Homo sapiens: one gene and its partner. The protein of the gene in region 1 interacts with the protein of each later gene in a pairwise test. Each region holds a gene or a part of one and is shown in the gene's direction. Other genes may lie near its edges.

Region 1 (3,500 bases):
TAGCTGGGGCAGCATGGGATCCCATCCCACCAACAAGGGCCCTCTCTATTGAGCATGTAGCTGTCCTGGTGCTCCACATGGGTGGTCCAATTTGAATTTTTACAACAGCATGTGAAGCCAGTGGTGTTACTGTCCTCATTACAGAGATGAAATACCTAGGAAACTAGGGCCTATGCCTTCCGCTTTATATAAGGTTTAACAAAAACAGGCCGGGCATGGTGGCTCACGCCTGTAATCCCAGCACTTTGGGAGGCGGATCCCCTGAGGTCAGGAGTTCGAGACCAGCCTGACCAACACGGTGAAACCCTGTCTCTACTAAAAAACAAAAATTAGCCATGCGTGGTGGCGTGCACCTGTAGTCTCAGCTGCTCAGGAGGCTGAGGTGGTAGAATTGCTTGAACCCAGGAGCCAGAGGTTGCAGTGAGCTGAGATTGTGCCATTGCACTGTAGCCTGGGCGACAGAGAGAGTCTCTGTCTCAAAAAAAAAAAAAAAAAAAAAAAAAAAAAAAAAAAATATATATATATATATATATATATATATAAATAAAAAAATTAACAAAAACAAAGCCCCAAAGAGGCCAAGGAAGTTTGTCCTCAGTTGCCGTGCTCTCTCTTGGGGTGGGATGTGACAATGGAATTGGAAATAGAACCTGGAAGTCCAAGGTCCCCAACTAGGAAATTGGCAGAGTTGTCATTAAAATCCAGGCCTTAGACTTGGATTGCTATGTCAGCCTATGTCTTCACTGCTAACACGACCTGTGTCTTTAATCCTCCACCCTGTACTCGAGGTCCAGGGAACCTCCTGGAGAACCTAGGGCTGGCTGCCTAGAATAGGCCCTTCTTGGCCAGGCGTGGTGGCTCATGCCTATAATCCTAGCACTTTGGGAGACTGAGGAGGGCAGATCACTTGAGGTCAGGAGTTCAAGACCAGCCTGGCCAACATGGTGAAACCCCATCTCTACTAAAAATACAAAAATTTGCCAGGCACACGCCTGTAATCCCGGCTACTTGGGAGGCTGAGGCAGAAGAATCACTTGAACCCAGGAGGCAGAGGTTGCAGTGAGCTGAGATCGTACCGCTGCACTCCAGCCTGGATGACAGAGTGAGACCCTGTTTCAAAAGAAAAAAAAAAAAAGCCCTTCTTCCCCTATAACTCAAAGTGCAAGAGCCTTTTTGTGACATCTCTCCTCCTATGGTGTGCCAGCCAAACCACGGTTTGCAACCTGGCTTCGTTCCCAACCCACAAGTCACTGGGGCTCTCTGTACTGAGTTTCCTCATCTACAAAAAGAAAATCAGCATCTCCCAGGAGAGTCAGTCTTCATGGCAGTTAACTGAGATTGCACCCATAAGGCCCTGGCATGCAGCCTGTGTAGTTCTCAATTGGAAGGCTCCTTATTTTTTTGTTTTTGTTTTTTTTTTTTTGAGATGGAGTCTCACTCTTGTCCGCCCAGGCTGGAGTGCAGTGGGCACGATCTCGGCTCACTGCAACCTCTGGCTCCTGGGTTCAGGCGACTCTCTTGCTTCAGCTTCCAGAGTAGCTGGGATCACAGGCATGTGCCACCACATCTGGCTAATTTTTGTATTTTCAGTAGAGATGGGGTTTCACCATGTTGGTCAGGCTGGTCTCGAACTCCTGACCAAAAGTGACCTACCCACCTTGGCCTCCCAAAGTGCTGGGATTACAGGCGTGAGCCACCACGCCCGGCCGGGGCCTTATTTTGGTCCAAAGCATTGAGCCTAGCAATGTGGCATAGAGGAAGGACCTCCCTTCAGTGGCCCCTGCCTGGGTCCCCCTGCTCAGGTCAAGATGCAAAAAGGTGAGCGCCAGATGGCCAAAAGGTTCCTGGAGGAACGGAAGGAAGAGCTGGAGGAGGTGGCCCACGAACTGGCTGAGACTGAGCACGAGAACACGGTGTTGAGGCACAACATCGAGCGCATGAAGGAGGAGAAGGACTTCACCATGTAAGGTGGCTCCTGCTCTGTCCCCGCTGATCTATTCCTCCCTACCAGGCTGCCTTGAGCCCTGGGCAATAATGGAAAGCAACGTAGGAGGTGGGCACAGGCACTGTGCCTGTGCCCTGGAGCCTGTTCAACAGTCACACAATTAATTACAGTTAATTACCTGGTTGTGCTTATGATTTGTACTATGAGGGAAAGGGAGGACCCCGTGGATTGTGGTGTGGGACTGGGTAGCAGGGAACTGTTTCTGGAACAAGTGATATTTAAGGGGTGTCCTGCAGGATGGTTAAGCATTCGGCAGGTGGGTGCTAGGGAAGAAAGCACGCTACTCAGTGGGAACATCTTATGCGAAGGCCCCAAGGTGGGAAAGTGTTTGTAGCTGAGAAATGGAAGGCAGGCCAGAGTGGGTGGGCAGAGGATAAGGGGGCCACATAGGTTGGCAGGGGGCTGGCTCTCAGCAGCCACTTTGAGGCATTTGCATTGAGGGCATTTGGAAGCCATGGAAAGGATTTATTTTATTTAATTAATTTATTTGGCCGGGCGTGGTGGCTCACGCCTGTAATCCCAGCCCTTTGGGAGCCAAGGCGGGCAAATCACAAGGTCAGGAGTTCGAGACCAGCCTGGCCAACATGGTGAAACCCTGTCTCTACTAAAAATACAAAAATTAAGCCGGGCGTCGCGGCGGGCGCCTATAATCCTAGCTACTCTGGAGGCTGAGGCAGGAGAACTGCTTGATCCTGGGAGGCATCTCAAAATTTTTGAGATGGAGTCTCGCTCTGTCATCCAGGCTGGAGTGCAGTGGCGTGATCCTGGCTCACTGCAATGTCCGCCTCCTTGACTAAAGTAATCCTCCTGCCTCAGCCTCCCAAGTAACTGGAATTACAGGTGCCCACTACCATGCCCGGCTAACTTTTGTATTTTTAGTAGAGATGGGGTTTTAGCTGTTGGCCAGGCTGCTCTCGATAACACCTGATCTCAAGTGATCTGCCCACCTCGGCTTCCCAAAGTGCTGGGATTACAGGCTTTAGCCACTGTATCCAGCCTACAGCCATGGAAGTTTTAAAAGCAGGGAGGTGGCCTGACTAGCCTTGGCTGCAGTGTAGAGAAGAGGTAGAAGGGCTCAAAATCGTATCTGAAGATGGTGCGTAGGAGGGCGTGACAGTGGAGGGGGGCAGTGCAGAGATGACAATGGTGGCTGTTTGAGAGAAACAGGGCCACAGGTAGCTAATGTCTCCTGGTGTGGAGGCCCTGGTCTGGTGCCCAGGCAGATGTAACTTCTGGCCCTGGTCCTTTCTGAAGGCCACCCAGGCCAGAAGGGCTGTCCCTGCCCCCTCCCCTACTTTTCCCTGACCAGAGGTGAGCCCCCTAGGGCATTGTGAGGCAAGCCTTGGATCTCTGGGCATGCGGGGGCCTGGGAGGGCTCACAGAGCCGTCTTTCTGGCCCCAGACTTCAGAAGAAACACCTACAACAGGAGAAGGAGTGCCTCATGTCCAAGCTGGTGGAGGCGGAAATGGATGGGGCTGCGGCTGCCAAGCAGGT
Region 2 (4,020 bases), on another chromosome or scaffold:
GGAAGCAGAAGCATCCTACCCCATCCTGAACCGAGCCAGGGAAGGAGACAGCCATAAGGAATCTAAATATGCTGTTCCCAGAAGAGGAAGCCTGGAACGGGCGAACCCTCCCATCACCCACCTCGGGGATGAACCGAAGGAATTTTCCATGGCTAAAATGAATGCACAAGGAAACTTGGACTTGAGGGACAGGCTGCCCTTTGAAGAGAAGGTGGAGGTGGAGAATGTTATGAAAAGGAAGTTTTCACTAAGAGGTAAGTGACCAGTGCCCCTAAAGCTTTAGAAAGCCACTGGGTTTTAGTTTCTGCTTGATTTGTCCTGTGTCTATGATGGCTTTTAACAAAGTTCTATAGGCAGTTTACAGCTAGTATTGGTTAAAAGTTCAGCGGGAATCCTATTCTTCCCTGGATCTGACTAGAGGATACATCAAGTTTTCAGCAATAAAACTACTGGAAGAGCTTTCACACATCTTCATGGAGTTTCTGTTGACTTTGGTCACTCACACAATGGCCTTCTGAGCTGCTTAGTTCTGGTGGCCCCTTTTAGAAATTGATGACCCCAAAGGTCCAGGCTGGGTAAGCACAAGGAATTCAGGAAAGACTTGACCCCAGTCTCTGAATCGCTAGAGTGCTTCTTCCTGCATGCCTGTTTTGCAGGCTAGCAAGCTACACTGCGTGGGCCCTTCATCCTCTTTCTACGTTTGTATGAAACAGTACAGTGTAAGTTATAATAGGGGTTTGCGTTTGTGAGTATAGCACATTTGAATGTTAAGGTATTATTTTGGAGAATAGAACCATTCTGGAGTAAATAGTTAAAGCTGACTTCCTGTGTCTCGCACACAGGAGAGAAACCAATTGCCACGAAGCATTTTGCTGTGTGGGTAACCCTCCAGGAAGTTTGGTTTTCTCACAGAGTGTAGCGTGCTGCAGATTTGCATAAATCCCAGTGGATTGGGTCACCCGCCGTGTGCCCACGGATTGAACCCTGAGAGCTGCACTGTTGAGGGCGAATCGCTGGAAGAATGTTTGCCTGAGGAGTTCAGTGCTGATGTTGCTCTTTTCCTTCCCAGCGGCAGAGTTCGGGGAGCCCACTTCCGAGCAGACGGGGACAGCTGCTGGGAAAACTATTGCTCAAACCACAGCCCCCGTGTCCTGGAAGCCCCAGGATTCTTCGGAACAGCCACAGGAGAAGCTCTGCAAGAATCCATGTGCGATGTTTGCTGCTGGAGAGATCAAAACGCCGACAGGGGAGGGCCTTCTTGACTCACCCAGCAAAACCATGTCTATTAAAGAAAGGTAATGAGATTCGGTGAGCGAAAAGTAATTCTCTCGGGGAGGAGCTTACAGCTTGCTTTTAGAAAACAATCTCGGTGATGGGCAAAGAGATGAAATCATACATTCAGCTTCTAACAGGACTGTGCTGTTGTCCTGGAGTAATTCTAGGAAGCTGAGGTGTTTGAGAGTGAACTGCCTTTGCTCATGAGCCTGGTTTGGTAATGAGCCTGGTTTGGACAGGGCTGGTTCCAGACTCAGATGAGAAAACAAACAGAAACAGACTTCTGTTTTATTTATTTGTTTCCACTGTCCCAATATCTTTTATAATATTAAATTCTTGGACTATCTAATGACAGGAGCTGAAATCTTGGCTCTTCCCCTTTTAGATACACAGGGTTCATACTGAATGCACAAACCACTTGTGACTTTGTGTAAAATATGTGTAGAGGGAGTGAAGATAAATTTACATAGAGGGCATATATCTTTGGACTTAGAATCCAAGTTTTGTTTCTTTTACAGATTGTAAAATGGATGACTTTTCTGAACTGCATTTAGAAATTGTATGTCAGGTAATAGCTTGAAAGATTGCATTTCAGCATCAAATAACACAGTAGCCTAATTTCTTTCAAAAGAATGACGTAGGGTGCAGAGGAATATATTTAAATTAGACAGATACAGAGAACTGGAAGTAAATTACCTTGGGGATGTGTTTTCCTTGTTAACCCTTAACCACAGATGAATTAAGCAGCAAAAGATGCAATAGTGGGAATAAATTCAGAGTTTGATAGCAGAGTAGGGTGACTAAATAAAAACGTATTGTACTGAGGTGATGGACATTCTAAATAGAGGCTTGATCACTATGCATTTTATATGTGTAACAAAATTTCTCATGCACCACATAAATTTGTACAAAAAAAGGAGAAAGTATTCAGTAGGAAAAAAACATGATGGAATAGTTGATAGGAAAACTGGGTGAAGAAAAATCTTGTCAACTCCATATTAGGAGAACCATTTCCATCGCCTGTTCCCACAGTTCTGCCAACCTCCACCCTTCCTCAGCACCTCCCACCACACGGAAGTCTGCAGGCTTCACTGACCACTCTTATTTTTCTAGATACATTTCAAACTGCCTAAGACTATACTAAACCACAATGAAAAGTCTTCTTTCTTTCTTTTCCTTCTTTCCTTTTTTTTTTTTTTTTCTTTTTGAGACTAAGTCTTGCTTTGTCACCCAGGCTGGAGTGCAATGGGATGATCTTGGCTTACTGCAACCTCTGCCTCCCGGGTTCAAGCGATTCTCCTGCCTCAGCCTCCCAAGTGGCTGGGACTACAGACGCACACCACCACACCCAGCTAATTTTTTGTATTTTTAGTAGAGTTGGGGCTTCACCGTGTTAGCTAGGATGATCTCGATCTCCTGACCTCCTGATCCGCCTGCCTCGGCCTCCCAAAGTGCTGGGATTACAGGCGTGAGCCACCGTGCCTGGCCCCTTCTTTCTTTTTTTTTTTTTTTAGAGGAATGGTCTTCCTCTGTTGCCCAGACTAGAGTGCAATGGTGCTGTCACAGCTTCACTGCAGCCTCGAACTCCTGGACACAAGTGATCCTCCTGCCTCGGCCTCCCCAGTAGCTGGGACTGCAGACACGTACCACCATGCCTGGCTAATTTTTTCAAAAAGATTTTTTGTAGAGTTGGGAGGTCTCACCATGTTGCCCAGGCTGGTCTCGAACTCCTGGCCTCAAACAGTCCTCCCACCTCAGCCTTCCAAAGTGCGGGGATTACAGACATGCACCACCACACCTGGCCCTTCTTTCTAGTTTTAAGCCAAGCTTCTTGAACATTATTTGTAAAATAATAGATGCTATCTTTTTCAACTGACAAATTAATCACATTGTTAAATCTGACTTACTTTCTCCTTTACTTACTTAAAATTCATGATAAGTTAGACCTGGCAGGCTGAGGGGCATAGGGAAGGGGCAGAGGGGACAGTGCAATGAGGAGAGGGATGTCTTCAATCGGGGAAGCAGTTGGGCCTATTGAGGCTTGAAGTTCTCTTCCACGAAAATGGGGCTCAAAGAGAGTTTCATCCCAGAAACCCAAATATTGACAACTGGTTAGGTGAGGAAGAAGAGAGATCATTTAAGGAAATTAACAATAAATATCACTTATACACAAGTTCTGATGTTTTACACATGAGAAAATATCCCTGGGGTATTCCCCAGTGGGAAATACTAATATTATGCCCCCTTCTTTCAAAGGCTTTTAAAGGAGCCTTCCCATCTTTGGGAATATTCTGTCCATCTGGACTTAGGACTTTTGATGAAGAAGTCCTGTGTCTATCCACTAAGCAATAATTCCTGATTTACTTACCTGTTTTTTGGTAAATTTTAGTTGACCTGTATTTTTCTGAAAGCTTTAATCCTACTGTAAAATTCTCATTTTTAAAAGTGAGATACTGGAAAGACGTAGCTTCTTAGCTTGGGCTTTGTGGACATGTAAGGCGTTCAAGGATGGCTGTAAAGTTTCTGTGAACAGCCCGGAAGTGTATTCAGAATTGAATGGGTGAGCACACACACCTGCTGGCTAACAGAAGCCATAACTTATCATGGTCTCCAAGAGATCCCTGAGCCCAGTCTGTTCAGAATCATGATAGAAAGGAATGCTTGATTGATATTCAGCTATTCAGTTTGTTAAAATACATTTATGAAAGAACAAGGGACACTTTATTTAGCAGCTATGCTTGTAAT

Evidence for each region.
Region 2: the proteins of ODF2 (region 1) and SVIL interact in a two-hybrid assay, tested with the Homo sapiens proteins (one study listed by BioGRID).

What each region holds. Positions count from the first base shown.
Region 1 is NC_000009.12:128,469,506-128,473,005, forward strand, and holds part of ODF2 (outer dense fiber protein 2), read left to right. Parts: intron 1-1,802; coding exon 1,803-1,963; intron 1,964-3,407; coding exon 3,408-3,500. UniProt on the Homo sapiens protein: Seems to be a major component of sperm tail outer dense fibers (ODF).
Region 2 is NC_000010.11:29,519,685-29,523,704, reverse strand, and holds part of SVIL (supervillin), read left to right. Parts: coding exon 1-254; intron 255-1,069; coding exon 1,070-1,295; intron 1,296-4,020.